2 separate regions of the Homo sapiens genome follow, and region 1 is linked to region 2. The links come from fine-mapping of genetic effects on gene expression. Tissue or cell type: whole blood. Region 2 holds a variant in brackets; the other region holds the start of a gene. All regions are shown on one strand. Distances are from middle to middle.

The links. PIP is the estimated chance that this variant, and not a neighbour inherited with it, causes the effect.
Region 1: CAMK1 starts here. The variant in region 2 is fine-mapped to the expression of CAMK1 in whole blood (TOPMed, PIP 0.97).

The regions. Positions count from the first base shown.
Region 1 is chr3:9,765,948-9,774,049 of GRCh38, reverse strand. CAMK1 (calcium/calmodulin dependent protein kinase I) reads left to right here and starts at 4,103. Exons shown (of 12, transcript NM_003656.5): 1 at 4,103-4,218; 2 at 6,269-6,383. The coding sequence starts at 6,301. It also overlaps a transcript of OGG1 not described here. RefSeq lists a silencer at 4,153-4,332.
Region 2 is chr3:9,716,499-9,724,601 of GRCh38, reverse strand. It overlaps CPNE9 (copine family member 9), which reads right to left. Exons shown (of 21, transcript NM_153635.3): 15 at 7,498-7,544; 16 at 6,392-6,573; 17 at 6,000-6,127. Among named protein-coding and RNA genes, the nearest start is that of BRPF1, 11 kb to the left of the region's middle. The variant GT/T (reference allele first, on the strand shown) is at 4,174.

The DNA.
Region 1 (8,102 bases), 49 kb before region 2:
CTCTTTCAATAGCTTCTTTTCTGTCAGGTTCAAGAATTCATGGAGGCCAGCCATACTGGCTCACGCCTATAATCCCGGCACTCTGGGAGACCCAAGCAGGAGGATCACTTGATTCCAGAGTTCCAGAGAAGTCTGGGCAACAGAGGGAGTAGAGACCCGATATCTACAAAAAATAAAAAACTAAAAAAAATTAGCCAGGTATGGTGGTACACACCTGCAGCCCCAGCTACTCCGGAGGCTGAGGTGGGATGATCACTCCAGCCTGGGAAGTCAAGGCTGCAGTGAGCCATGATGGCGCCGCTGCACCACAGCCTGGGTGACAGAGTGAGGCCCTGTCTCAAAAAAATAATAAATAAATAAATAAATAAAAGAATTGATGGAGATGTCTGCACTGTTTAGCCATTCAAAAAAAAAAAAAAGAAGAAAAGATCATCCCCCTTTTCCCTGAGAACATTTGACTTTCCTTGACTCACCTTTTTTTAAATTATTATTCATTTATTTATTTTTGAGACGGAGTCTCGCTCTGTCGCCCAGGCTGGAGTGCAGTGGCGCGTGGTCTCTGCTCACTGCAAGCTCTGCCTCCCGGGTCCACGCCATTCTCCTGCCTCAGCCTCCTGATTAGCTGGGACTACAGGCGCCCGCCACCACGCCTGGCTAATTTTTTGTATCTTTAGTAGAAATACAAAAGATAACAGGGTTTCACCATGTTAGCCAGGATGGTCTCGATCTCCTGACCTCATGATCCACCCGCCTCAGCCTCCCAAGGTGCTGGAATTATAGGCGTTAGCCACCGCACCCAGCCACTTTTTTTTTTTTTTTTTGAGATGTAGTCTTGCCGTGTCACCCAGGCTGGAGTACAATGGTGCAATCTCAGCTCACTGCAACTTCCATCTCCTGGGTTCAAGCAATTCTCCTGCCTCAGCGTCCCAAGTGGCTGGGGATACAGGTGCATGCCACCACACCCAGCTAATTTTTGTATTTTTAGTAGAGACAGGGTTTCACCACGTTGGCCAGGCTGGTCTTAAACTCCTGACCTCAGATGATCTGCCCACCTTGGCCTCCCCACGCCTGGCCCTTCACTCACTTTTTGATTAGTACTTTGAAATGTGCTCATCGGGACTGGGGGCTGCAGAAGGATGTATATGTATACGCATCCAAAAAATCTGGAAGAATTGTACTAAAAATGTGAACACTGGTTGTCTCTGGTTGGTGGGGGCCCGGCTGAGAGTGTTGTGTTATTCTTGCCTCCCTCGCACCCCTAATTCCTTTGGACAAGATACCTCTTCCATTCCTTATGGCTGCCCATTACAGTACACTTGCTCAATATAGCACCCTAATTCTCCTGGCAACAGTTTTGGAGGCCAAGGGGTGAACATGTCACTCTATCACTCAAGCAGAGCCAGAGTCCTTCCCTGAGAATGAGATAGGAAATTGGGAGGATGCTTTCCTTCCACTGTGTTTAATTGGAAAGCTGGGGCTGCCTCACTCCATGTTTCCTGCCAACTAGAAGTTCACTCTGGAGAGAAAAAGAGGCCAACGTGTGAAGAAAAATCAAGACAAGGAGAGAGGAGGGAAGACAGAGAAAGCAAATCCTATGAGTACTACATCTCCAGTTCCAGTCTCCAAGCCCCTAATCTCTGGTGTTTTTCCTGCAATCTTGTGCCAGCTATTGTGAACTATAGATTCCTCTTGGATGAAGCTGGTTTAGGTTGGCATTCTGTCACTTGGGAAGCGAAAGAATCTCATCAGTTAGTCTGTGTGTGTTTTCAATACATTATGGAATTTTCCTGCAATGACCATGTATCACTTGTTCAATAGAAATACTAAGAAAGTAAAGATAATGTGTTTGTTAAAGAAAAGAAAACACGAGGCCTCTCAGAAATGCTCAAAAGCAGGAAAAATGTAAAGCACACCATAGAAGCTGTACAAGTCAGCTGGGCGCGGTAGCTCATGCCTGTAATTCCAGCACTTTGGGAGGCTGAGGCAGGTGGATCACCTGAGGTCAGGAGTTCGAGACCAGCCTGACCAACATGGTGAAACCCCCATCTCTACTAAAAATACAAAAATTAGTTGGGCGTGTTGGTTCACGCCTGTAGTCCCAGATACTTGGGAGGCTGAGGCAGGAGAATTGCTTGAACCCAGGAGGCGGAGGTTGCAGTGAGGCGAGATGGCACCATTGCACTCCAGCCTGGGCAACAGAGGGAGACTGTCTCAAAAAAAAAAAAAAAAAAAAAAAAAAGAAGTTGTACAAGTCCTCGAAAGGACAGAGGTCATCTTATCACCCAGGGGGTGTTGTCATCAAGATGAACAGGAATTTGTGGTAAAAGAACCCCTAGCTCAGTGGGTGTGCTTGGTGGGTATAGGGGAGAGTGGGGGCTCAGCCCTGAGCAGGAAATGTATTTTTCCATGAACTAAGGAGTCTGAGATACTGAGATTTGGAAGATGGATCCCTTAACCCCTCATCCCTGGCCAAATCAAGTCCTCTCTCTGAGTCTCAGTTTACACTGAGTCTAGCTCTCATGTTTTGAATAGTGTTCTAGGCACTTCATATCATTATATCATAGAATTCTCAGAACTCTGAGTCAATCTTCAATATTCCCATGTTCCCGAGTAAGAAACTGAGGTTCGGAGAGGTAAAGCATGACCAGGATCAGTTAGACTCCAAAGCCTTTCCAGGAACCTCAGCTATCTTCCTCTCTCATCTGTAAGATGGGCATAATAAATTGGCCAGGTGCAGTGGCTCATGCCTGTAATTCCAGAACCTTGGGAAGCTGATTGGGGAGGATTGCTTGAGCCCAGGAGTTTGAGACCAGCCTGGGCAATATAGTGAGATCCCCATCTCTACAAAAAATAAAAAAGCCAGGTGTGGTGGCACGCACCTGTAGTCCCATCTACATGGGAGGCTGAGGTAGGAAGATGACTTGAGCCCAGGAGTTTGAGGCTGCAGTGGGCCGTGATCATGCCATTGCACTCCAGCCTGGGTGACAGAGCAAGACCCTGTCTTAAAAAAAAAAGAAAAAGAAAAAAAGAAGAAGAGAAAGAAAGAAAAAAGAAAGAAAGAAAGAGAAAAAGGAAATGAGCTGGGCATAAGCACTGTTCTCTCCCCATCACCAGCTGGAACATGCAAGAATTCAGGAGTAGGGAGTGGCACTTGGAGGCCCTTGGAGGTGGAGTGGGGTCCCAAGCAACGTGCCTCCTCCGGCTGCCCCCAGTTCAGCCCCATCCCCAATTCCTGCGAGTTGCTCCCCCCGCCCCCTCTTTCCACTCGGCACCAAATTTCTTCCCAAGGAAGGCCTTGAGCAAACCGACCTTTGGCCTCTTGCCTGCCGTCCTAGTTGCAGGCTCTCTCCCCTAACCTGGACCCCAGCCATCAAACTCTGGAGCCCCGCCAGTCACGTGACACCTCGGTCCTTTTTGGCCTGTTTCCTTCAGGATCCCGATTTAACTTCCTCCTCCCCAATTCCCTCTGCCCCCAATACCTCTAGGCACCACCACCCGCTCTGAGGAGCAAGTGTCTGGGGCTGAAGCCTCAGCTCCATCTTGCAGAGGAACCGGGGCCTCAGTCTTCCCACCTGTCAAGTGGGGCCCACACCCTGCGACCACCTCCACTCTCTTCATTGCCTAGTCTTGCCCGGTCCTTCCCCACTCCCTCACTCCCCCATCCCCCACCAGACTCCCGTGCAGTTCCAGGGCCTGTTTCCCTTCAGGGCACGGAGAAGGGAGACAGAGCCCTAAGGGAGGTCGCAGAACTGGTCTGAAAGAAAATCCACCAGGCCACAGGGTGAGTTTGGCCGGCCTCTAGCTTCAGACAGACGGGGTTCGAATCCTGCTTTGCTTCCGACCACCCGCTGATTTGAAAATCATCTCTCCGGGCCTCAGTTGTCCCCTCTGTGAAATGGACCCCGCTTAAGACCAAGGGCGGGAAGCGTCCAGCAGGAGATCTCTGACCAGAAGCAGGGAGATGGCCTCCACCCGTGCCCCTTCCCCAGCCTTGGAGCGGTGCCTCGCCTCCCAATCCCGGGTCCCTCCGCCGCAGGCTCCACCTCCACTGACATCAGAGCCGCAGGCGGGCGGAGAGAGCCGCCGAGCCGAGCCGAGCCCCAGCTCCAGCAAGAGCGCGGGCGGGTGGCCCAGGCACGCAGCGGTGAGGACCGCGGCCACAGCTCGGCGCCAACCACCGCGGGCCTCCCAGCCAGCCCCGCGGCGGGGCAGCCGCAGGTACAGCCGGGCCCCCCATCCCTGCACCCCTGGGCGCTGCGTGGGGGCGGTGGGAGCCCCTAGCCTCTGGGTATCCTTTCCCAAGGAGTGGCCACTGGGCACTCTCCCGGGCGGGCTGGACCCTGAGGGGCAGGGCTGGGCCTTTCTCCACCTCTGTCCCAGGCCCAGCAGGTGCCAGGCGGGCCTATGGGACACTGAGTGGGTAATAGAGAAGGGGGCCTGTGTGAGCGCCTTCAGCTGGGCCTGACTGGAAGGGCGTGGGCATTTGGAGGTATCCATGGGGTGGGGGGGCTTGCGGAGTGTACTGTCTTAGGACAGGCGTGTGGGTCAGACATGGGTGGAGGATCTGGGAATCTGTGTGTTTTTTGTTCCAGAGGGGTGTCCACGTGTTTTGTGTGCTGGTATTTGGCTCTCAGGGTCTTAAGTCAGAGTTAGGAGGGGGTGTACAATTGTGTACTGAGGATGTTTGGAGTTAGGTGTGTAAGGACTTGGGGTTTGGTTTGGAATACAGGAGCTTCCAGGGGATGGGGTAGAGGAGCTGGAGGGTGTAGGGTACGTCTGGTATATGAGGGTGTGTGTGTGTGTGTCTGGGTGTCATCTTGTGTGGGTGCGGGTGGATGTGTGTTTTGGGGTGTAAGAGGGAGCTGGGTGAGGGATGTTTGGATGGACAGGCAGGTGTTCGGGTGCAGGGCTGTCTGGGGCACTGTGTGGTGTGGACATGTGTGCTGATGTCTGGGAGTACATGTATGATCAGGTGTCACGGGATGTGGATACAAGGCGTACTGGATCTGGGAGGCAGGTGTTTGAGTTCAGGGCTGTGGAGGGGGCTTGGTGTGGCATGTCTGCTACAGGGATGTGTGTGGATCTGTGAGGGTTGTATTTGGTAGGCCTCCATGTGGGTTTCAGACTCTGCCTCTAGAGCTTACACTCGAGTCTCCTTTCCTAGAAGATTCTGCCCCTGGATGGGTGGGCAGGGTCCCCTGGGAAAAAGGTCCTGTTCCAGGAGTGGAATCTCACACCAGAGGCCCTAGTCAGGGCACCTTCTCCTCATTCTCCCTTAGAGAAAAAGAGAGAAGGAAAGTGCTCTCCCTGAGGTCACAAAGCATGCTGGGCTCTGTTTTGGCCTCATCTGTGGATGGGTTGGGAGGCTGTGTTCTCTGAATGGGGCCCATTCTGGCTTCATATTGGAAGTACCAGCCAAGGCCATTCGATGGCCTTTGCCCTCAGCAAGCTTAGCTGGGGGCCCCAGGCCAGGTGTCATTAGGGCCTCTGGAGCCAGCCTCTACCTAACTCCAACCTCAGTCTCCCCATTCTTCATCTGATAAATGGGAGAGAACTCCCACCCTCTCCTGCTGGATGAGACAGACCTCAGCAGAGGAAGGGCCAGGCTGGATAGGGTTAGATGGGGCCAGGAAGGGACAGAGTGAGCAGGACCATTTCTCATGCTCCCGGGACCCAGATGGGGAGTCAGGAGGGAGAGGTCTGGGGAGCTCCAGCTGTGGCTGTTGTTGCTGTGGTAACAGTGCAGAAAGAGCTATTTAAAAATGTGGCTGAGATGTTGCTGGAAGCCCAGGCTGCTGGAAACCTGATTTCGGAGAGGCCGGGGAGTCGGGGGAAGGAGGAGGGAAAGGAGACACCCCAGCAATCCCCAGGGTGGGGCGGGGACATCACTGGTTCTGGGGACAGGGGGATCCTCCAGGCTTCTACCAGCTGCTCTGGGGGTTTATCTGTTGTACTGCCAGAAGTCAGGGTTTCCCTAGGTGCTTGGATTTGGATAGGGGGAAAACTGGGAAGAGAACTAGAATAAATGAATGAATGAATGCATGACTTTGTTAAATAAAGAATTTTGCTGCCACTGTGAAAGGTTTTTCTCTAGGCATGAGAATTTGCTGAATGTTGAATAAACAAATGAATGTTTGTTGAATGATTTTGTCAAATGGATGAATCAAGGATGAATAAATGCAGGTTGAATGACTGAATGGGGCCTGCAGTAAATTCCCAGACAGAGGGCTGGGCTCTGCTGAGTCTCCTCCTTCCATTCTCCTTACAGGAGCCCTGGCTGTGGTCGGGGGGCAGTGGGCCATGCTGGGGGCAGTGGAAGGCCCCAGGTGGAAGCAGGCGGAGGACATTAGAGACATCTACGACTTCCGAGATGTTCTGGGCACGTGAGTCCAGGGCAGGATTGGGTGCTGGATGGCTGAGGGAGGCTGAGTCCAGGGTGGGGCTTCCTCTGGTCAATTAATGCTTCCTGTTTCCCACAGCCCAGGCCCTGTGGCAGCACTATCTAGGGCCTAAACTGTCCCCAGCTTTTCACTTCTGGATGACAGTGGGTGGGACACGGGCTGCTCTCCCAATAGCCCTGGGTTCTTGAAGAGAAAGAAGTCGAGAGAATGAAGGTGCCAGTCAGTCCATTTAACTTGCTGCCAAGAGCTAAGTGTTCTAGCCTAGGTTTGGGAACTGAGGCTGGAGATGGCTCTGTTCTTGGTGCTGGGAATGCAGAAATAACTCAAACCTGGTCTCTGCCCTTCAAGTTGATCCCAGACATGTGCAAGAGACAGACCTACAGAAAATGACAACAGGGTGTGTGCTGTGCTCCAATTAAGGTTGGGATTGAGGGCTTTGTGGAGCCCAGAGAGAGCTGTGCCTTCTGCCTGGGGGAAAACTTCCTGGAGAATGGGGCATTAGAGCTGGGGACTGAAGGATGGGTAGGTGTGCACTTGTCAGAGAGGAAGAAGGACATTCCAGGCAGAAGGAATAGCATAAACAAAGGCTTAGAGGCATGGTTCTATGTGGAGAGAGGTAGAGTGTGATGGAGCTTAAAATCACAGGCTGGGGGGAGAGTGGAAAAAGGGGCTGGAGATGAAAGTGGGACAGTTTGTGTAGGGTTTTGGAAGCCAGGCCAGGGAGGCTGGATATTGTCCCATAGGCCACCGGGAGACACTTAAGACTTTTTGGCAGGTGTGCAATTCAGGATAGTCACTCTGGCCACAGCTTGGAGGGTAAATTGGAGAGGGACAAGACTGGAAACCAGTGATGAGGTTACTACAGTAACTAATTATCCCTGAGGATTGAAATTTCACCACGAGAGATGCTTTTCTTTGACTTATGACTTCTTATTCTCCCAGAGAAAGCAAACAGATGTGGAAAGAATACCCTAGCAAATCCTCTTTAATCAGTTAACTTTAGTTAAATGAGTTTATTTGTTCCTTTTTAAGAACCTGTTCTAAAACACTGCTTCTTAAAGTTCAATGAGCATACAAATCACCTGAGGATTTTGTTAAACTGCAGATTGATTTAGTAAATCTGGGGCAGGGCCTAAAGTTTTGCATTTCTTTTTTTTTTCTTTTTTTTGACCCAGGATCCAAAGCAGTAGAGATTTTGCATTTCTAAAAAAGTTCCCGGGTGATGCTGATGGTTCTTTAAGGTTCTAAAGGGTGTTAAATTAGCCATGACTCGAATTAGCAGAAAAAGGGATGAACCAACTGTACACATAATCCAAAAGCCCAGGGGTAGACCTCAGGCATGGCTGGATCCAGAGGGCCACATAATGTTATCAGGAAATATATTTGGCCATTTCTCAGGTTGGACTTCCTTTGTGTTAATTTCATTCCCAAGCAGGCTCTCCCCAGGTGGTGGCAAAGATGATCGCCATTAGCTCCAGGCTTACATCCTACCAGCTCAACAGGAGACTCATTCTCAAAGTGCTAGTAAGCTGGCTTGCATCACATGACCAATTACTGTGGCCAGGGGAGAGACTACTTTGACTGGCCAGGCCTGGGTCATGTGACCATCTCTGGAGCCAGGGGATGGATGAGTGACTAGGGGAGGGTCATCCACGTCCTTGGTCCAGCAGTGGTCACAGAACCCATAGGGAATGGAGGAGA
Region 2 (8,103 bases):
GCGCTATAGTGGGACTAAAGAACAACTCCCCTGTGTGGAGGTCAGAAATTGAGGGAAGCAGAGTGGGCCACGTGGCTGAAGAAGCACAGAGCTTAGACCGCTCAGGGATTTATCAACCCCTGGCAAGATTTTGATGTTTATATATGAGCGAGAGCAAAGGCTGAAGGCTTCCTTGCTTCCTTCTCCCCCACATTTCTTCTCTCTCCCTTCTCCCCTCTGCCAGCCACATCTCATCGCCTGGGCTGCTGGGCCCCATGCAGTCCTCCCCCTGCCAATCTAACAGCTGCTTCCAGAGCTCCTTTTCCTTCTCTCACTAGTCTTTGAAGCCAAGATTTTTTTTCCACCTGAAAAGGACTTCAGAAGTCATTGAGTCCAGTCCCTTTATTTTGCATATTCAAAAAAAAAAAAAAAAAGACCTAGAGAGGGCACAAAGGTAGTGGGAGACCCTGGTCTCTTGACTTCCAGTCTCCAGTCCTGTGCGGACTGGAAAGGATGGAGCTGTGGCTGTCCAATAAGGTAGCCTTGGCTATTGAAATTTAAATTAATTAAATAGAGTTAAACATTCAGTTCCTTGGCCACCCTAGCTACTTTCAAGTGCCCCATATCCACATGTGGTTGGTGAGTACCATATTGGCCTGCACAGATACAGAACTTTTCCATCATTGCAGAAAGTGCTATTGGACAGTACTGTATTGAAACCTGATCTCAAAATGTGAGGAAAGGCATGGAGAGGGTGTAGAATTATAAAATAGCTTTGGGGACAGGTGGGGTGGCTCACGCCTGTAATCCAAGCACTTTGGGAGGCTGAGGCAGGAGGATCACTTGAGGCCAAGAGTTTGAGAACAGCGTGGGCAACATAGTGAGACCTGGTCTCTACGAAAAAATTTAAAATTAGCTGGGCTTGGTGGCGCGTGCCTATACTCTCAGCTACTCAGGAGGCTGAGTCAGGAGGATTGCATGAGCCCAGTGAGCCATGATGGCACCACTGCACTCCAGTCTGGGAGACAGAGTAAGACCCCAACTGAAATAAAAATAAAAGTAAAATAATAAAATAAAATAATTTTGGCTCAGTTTGCCCAGGGCCCAGAGTGGGAGTGGGTCATGATCCTGGTTTTTTTCTTTTTTTTTTTGAGACAGAGTCTCGCTCTGTTGCCCAGGCTGGAGTGCAATGGCACAATCTCAGCTCACTGCAACCTCTGCCTCCTGGGTTCAAGGGATTCTCCTGCCTCAGTCTCCTGAATAGCTGGGATTACAGGCGCCCACCACCATGCCCGGCTAATTTTTATATTGCTAGTAGAGACGGGGTTTCACCATGTTGTCCATGCTGGTCTTGAACTCCTGACCTCAAGTGATCCGCCCGCCTCGGCCTCCCAAAGTGCTGGGATTACAGGCATGAGCCACTGTGGCCAGCCATGATTCTCCTTTACATCCCCTACCCACTTCCTGAGTTCTGGCCCCAGCCTCCTCAGAGACCTGGCTTGGTACCTTTTCCTGTCACTTACTCATTTCATAAATAGCAATTGCATACCTACTGTGTATCAGGCACCACGCTGGGTGCTGAGCATGGAGCAGAATAGGATATTGTCCTTGGGGAGAGAGAGGATTAAACTACTAAAGTGTATTGAGGTTAGGGCTTTGAGGATGTAACATCTAACCTAAGTACCTGAAAAATGGGTTGGGTTTAGCCAGGTGGTGATGGTGGTGGGAAGGTAAAGGGAAAAGTGTTCCAGAGAAAGAGAATGGCAAGTGCAAACCACGAGGAGTTACATGTAGAACTACAGCGGAGAGGCTGGACCTGGTGGCTCACATCTAAGATCCCAATGCTTTGGGAGGCTGAGATCAGAGGATCCCTTGAGCCTAGGAGTTTGAGACAAGCTGGGCAACATAGCGAGACCCTGTCTCTACGAAAAAATAATAAAATTAGCCTGGCGTGGTGACATGCACCTGTGGTCTTAGCTACTTGGAAGGCTGAGGTGGGAGGGAGGATCGCTTGAGCCCAGGAGTTCAAAGCTGCTGTGAGCTGTAATGGTACCACTACACTCCAGCCTGAGTGACACAGTGAGAACCTGTCTCTTAAAAAAAAAAAAGAACTGTAGAAGACAATGGGCATCATGGAAGGGTTTGGGGGCACAGGAGGTACATCTTTGGTTCTCTGTAGATGCCTTGCATTCTCAAGGCTGTTTTTATCTGGAAGTTAGCTGAGAAAATGGGTGAGTGGCCAGAGGAGGCCAGTCTATGCCTCACTTGGCTGTAGAGTGGGAAACAGCAGAGTCCATTGTGATCATCAAAATCACAGATGTACACTTGACATACATGATCTAATTTAATCCTCACCGCCATTCTATAAGGTAGGCGCTTTAAAAGTTCCTATTTTTATGGCCGGGGACAGTGGCTCATGCCTGTAATCCCAGCACTTTGGGAGGCCGGGTGGCGGGGGGGGGTGGATCACCTGAGGTCAGGAGTTCGAGACCAGCCTGGCCAACATGGCGAAATTCCGTCTCTTCTAGAATACAAAAATTAGCCGGGCATGGTGGTGCGCACCTGTAATCCCAGCTGCTCATGAGGCTGAGGCAGGAGAACTGCTTGAACCCAGGGGCAGAGGTTGCAGTGAGCTGAGATCGTGCCACTGCACTCCAGCCTGGGTGACAGAGTAAGACTCCATCTCAAAAAAAAAAAAACTAAAAACAAAAAACAGTTCCTATGTTTAAAATGAGGAACCTGAAGCTTAGAGACATTAAGTAACATCCCCAAGGGGTTATGAAGCTGGGGTCCAAGCCCATGCCTGACCAGCTGAGCCTGAAGCTGGAGCTCTTGATTCTCTCACTCTCTATCCCCAGTCCATTATCTGGATAGTCCTCTGTACACAGTGCGCACTCTAGTCATATTAAACTCTTCACTGTTTCATGAACTTGCCCCTTCATGCCTCTGTTTTTCATATGCCATTCCTTCTACCAGGCCTACTCTGCTTCTGTTTCTCTCATAAAGTCTACCTCGTCCTCTAGACCCAGCTGAGCAGTCCCCTTTATGGTACTGGAGCCTATGCCCTACCCCCTCCCTCTAGGATACTGCTCCACCCACCAAGATGGGCTGTCTGCTCCTCTAAGTGGGTTCTCACTGCATGATCTGCTGGATAAAGCTAGATGACTATAAGTACATAAGACTATAAGTACTTAAAACACCTTTTTTCTCTAAATTAAACAGGGATGCAATGTGAGAAGAATATAAAATTTGCATGAATTTTTAAGATGAAATACGGAAACTTCAAAGACATTTTCAGCCTGACTGCTTTCAGCTATGCCCCCAGATTCCCCCAGAGGGACGCTGTCGCTTGCCTTTGCTGACAGGCGACTTGCTAGAAAAGTCTGGGAAGCTCTGGTCTACAGAAGGTAATGATTTATTTATATTTCTGTCTCCTGCACCAAGGCGGGAGCTCCCAAGGGGAGGGACTAGATCTGATTCATCTGTGAATCTTCAGTGCCCCAGCAGAGAACTGAGCACACAGCAGATGCCTTTTGGATAGTAATAATGATAATAATAGTAACAGTAATAGCGAACACCTATAGTATTTATGATGTGGCAGGCACTGTTCTAGGTGCTTGACATATATTAATTAGTTAGTCCTCACAACAACCCTATGAAGTAGACATTGTTACTTTCCTCATTTTACAAATGAGGAATAAGGCGCAGAGAGGTTAAGAATCTTGACCAAAGCCACAGCTAGTGAGTGATAGAACCAGAGTGTTAACTTGGCTAGTCTGGCTCCGGACACCACACTCAATGGTGCATTGCCCCTTTACTGAATGTTTACTAAATGAATGAATAAATTTTGAATTAGTGTAGTTGCATAAGATAATATTTAAGAAGTCAGCTTAATAACAACAAAAACATGCTCAGGTTCCAGTATTAGTGAAAAAAAAATCAGTAGTGAAATGTTATATGTATAATAATTTGACTATAATTATGGATACATAAGGAAAAGAACTGTATATACATCCACATTCCATGGGCAGTATTCAGGGTGATTTCTTCATTTCTCTATTGAAACTTTCTACGGTTATGATTAAAGAATCTATTATCATTACTGCAAATTAGAAAATAAATCTACTAGAATTAATACCTGAGTGATGAAATAATCTGTACAACAAACCCCCATGTGTCACATGTCTCAAGTTT[GT/T]TATGTAACAAACCTGCACATGTACCCCTGAACTTAAAAGGAAAGTTAAAAAAAAAACAAATCTTCGCTAGGGGAAAAAGTCTATGGACATATAAATCTCACTGAAATCCTTTCACTTTTATTCCCTTTTTGTTTAATCTTTTTACTTCTGAGCTTTCTGAGGGGCTTTGTGTTAGCTGGGTTTCTTCTGTTTACTATAAAGTGGGGTTTGCTTATTTTTTGTTCAATCAAATAATCTTTTTCTTTTTTAAGGTCAAACAGAGCTTATTTATGTTTATTGACATATGTTTGATTTTAGTTCTGTCATTTCATAAATTCGTTTTAAGTTTATTTTAATACCCTCTGGTTTTTTAAGCCATTTGATGTATGATCTGGGTTTTCTTTGGTTTGTGTGTGTGTGTGCATATATATATATATGTATATATATATATTTTTTTGAGACAGAGTCTTGCTCTGTCGCCCAGGTTGGAGTGCAGTGGTGTGATCTCGGCTCACTGCACCCTCTGCCTCCCAGGTTCAAGCAATTCTCTGCCTCAGCCTCCCAAGTAGCTGGGATTACAGGTGCCCACCACCACGCCTGGCTAATTTTTGTATTTTCAGTAGAGACGGGGTTTCACCATCTTGGCCAGGCTGGTCTTGAACTCCTGACCTCATGATTCACCCACCTCGGCCTCCCAAAGTGCTGGGATTACAGGTGTGAGCCACCACACCTGGCCTGCTTTGTATAGTTTTATTCTGAAAATTTGGACAGTCACTCATCTAGTTTTTAACTTATCATTTATGGAGCATGTACCATGGGCCAGACACTGTGCTAATACTTGTTACACTATTATCTAATTTTAACCTTGCAATAACTCTATAAGGAAGCTGCTATTGTCATCCATTATGACACCACCTTACAGGGATGAAATGGATGCTTAAAGAGGCGAAGTTGCTTAAGGTCAGATGGTTAGTGAATGGTGGAGGAAGGATCCCACTCAGATCTGATGCTAAAACGTACGCCTTCACCACAGTGCTGTAGGCTCTTCTCTCTCTTACCCAAACTCAAGCCCCAGCTTGTCATTCTCAGGCAGTGGGGTTAGGGTAATTTGCTGACACCCTTTGTGCCGCATAATAAGGTACAGTCATCCCTCAGTATCCACGGGGGATTGGTTCCAAGACTCCTGTGGATACCAAACTCCTCAGATATTCAAGTCCGTCATATAAAATGGTGTAGTATTTGCATATAACCTATACACATCGTCCTGTATACTTTAATTTTTTTAATTTAAATATTTAATTTAAAAAAATGAGCCAGGCATGGTGGCATATGCTTGTAATCCCAGCACTTTGGGAGGCTGAGGCAGGTGGATCACTTGAGGTTGGGAGTTCAAGACCAGCCTGGCCAACATGGTGAAACCCCGTCTCTACTAAAAACACAAAAACGAGCCAAGTGTGGTGGCATGCGCCAGTAATCCCTGCTATTTGGGAGGCTGAGGCAGGAGAATTGCTTGAATCTGGGAGGCGGAGGTTGCAGTGAGCCGAGACCATGCCACTGCACTCCAGCATGGCAACAGAGCAAGACTCTGTCTCAAAAAAAAAAAAAAAAAAAAAGAGATGGGGTCTCACTAAATTGCCTAAGTTGGTCTTGAACTCCTAGGCTCAAGTGATCCTCCTGCCTCAGTCTCCCAAAGTGTTGGGATTACAGGTATGAGCCACCATGCCTGGCCTCTCCTGTTTACTTCAAATCATCCTAAATTACTTAGAGTGCTCCTGACTATCCTTGGGGGGTCAATCCCTTATGTGGGTCCCCTCATTTCCCCCAGCTTCCACCCAGTTCCCTTACCTGGCCACTTGGTTGATGACAGGAGCAAAGTAGGTGGGCCCATAGAGCTGCACTGTGCGCAGGCTCTGGAAATAGCTCTCCAGCACACCCTCGATGCCCGCACAGTTGGGGTCCTCATCATTGTTGTTCTGTCAAAGAATATGCCCTGCCAGGCTGAGCCCATGCAGGGTACATGCAGGAGTGCTCTGATTCCAGCTCACTCCTTCCTTTTTCCATCAGTCCCTTTCATGCTCCCCTCCAAACCCAGCCCTGCTCCCCTCCCTGCTCTGCTATCCTCTCATAGCTTCCTGTTCCTCTACATGCCCTTTGAAGTAATGTAAACAGAACAAAATCATCAACTTGGGTGAACCAGATGCCAGGGCACGGAGGGTAAGCTCTGGCCAATACCATACCAGGGGGAACTGGTGGGAGATCCGTCCCTCTGGGGGCAGCTTGGCCCCAAAGCCATAAGCTGGGAAGAGCTTATCACTGTCATAGTCCTGGATGATCTCTCCCACTGCCTTGAGGGCCATGGCATAGGCGCTGAGCTGGTAGGGACTCATGTAGTGCAGGGAGGTAGGCTGCAGAGGATTCCCTGTAGGGACACAGGAACCCCAGCCTCATGATCATCTGGATCATCCATCTGTTCACCTGCTTATCTTTGTGTGCATTCATCCACCTATATCCATTTATCTGCCCTCTACCCATGTCCTCCCTCCTTATTTTACCCAATCATCCATTTGTTCATTTATCCATCTATCCACCCACCCATCCCTATATCTATTCATCCATTTACCTACCTACCCACACATCCATCCACCCATCTACCTAGCCATACATCTATCTTTCAGTCTACTTATACATCTTTATCCACCAATCTCTCCATTCTCTTATGCAGCTATCCACTTACCCACTCATCCATCCATCAGTCCATCCATCCATCCATCCATCCACCCACTTGTCTACTTGCCATTTTTCTTCATTTTCCACCCATCTATACAACAGTATTATTTTATCCATCCGGCTAGCCAGCCCTCTCCATTCCATTCATTCCCTTGTCTATTCTCATATGGATCTATCCACTCATGCATTTCCCCTAATTACTTGTTATTTCCCCAACTTAAACTTTAGTCCATTTGTCCACCCACATACCCATCGATGCATCTACTTGTCTAACCTATTATACTCACCAACCCATGTACCCACTCCATTTGTTCATGGATCTATGCATCCATTCATGACTCACCACCTGTTCACCTCTCCATCTCTCCTTATACCCCCTTTCTCTCTCATCCATCAGCCTACTCATCCACCTGTTGAGCTATATATCCTTTCAACCCTCTATGATCCATCTACCCATCTATTTTTCTGCACTCTATTTTCCTGGCTGGGTTTTGCCTAAGTTTGGGCTTCTTGGGTAGGTAAACTCTTATCTCTAGGTAGGAATCCAGGCCAACTCCTAATGACTCCCTTAGAAGTGCCTTCCCACCTCCGACTTTTTCACTCATCCGTGTCTCACCATTGGAAGCCGTGAAGTCAATGGCTACTGTGAAGTTCAGCTGTGTCCTGTTGGGGAAGCAGATGAATTGAGAAGTGAGGAACTAATGATTATTACATCACTATTTCTCAAACAGTAATGTGCATATGGATCACGTGGGGCTCATGTTAAAATGCAGATTCTGATCCAGATGGTCTGGGTAGAGCCTAACAAACTCCCAAGTAATGCTGATGCTGCTGGCTCATGGACTACACTTTAGGTAACAGAATTAAATGCCTACTGTGTGGCAGGTGTATTATATGTCATTTAATTTAACCCTTACTATAGCCCTGAAGTAGTGATTAATATCCCCATTTGGCTGGGCGCCGTGGCTCACGCCTGTAATCAGCACTTTGGGAGGCTGAGGAGGGTGGATCACCTGAGGTCGGGAGTTTGAGACCAGCCTGACCAACATGGGGAAACCGCATCTCTACTAAAAATACAAAAAATTAGCCGGGCGTGGTGGCGCATGCCTGTAATCCCAGCTACTTGGGAGGCTGAGGCAGGAGAATTGCTTGAACCTGGGAGGCGGAGGTTGCAGTGAGCCAAGATCGCACCATTGCACTTCAGCCTGGGCAACAAGAGTGA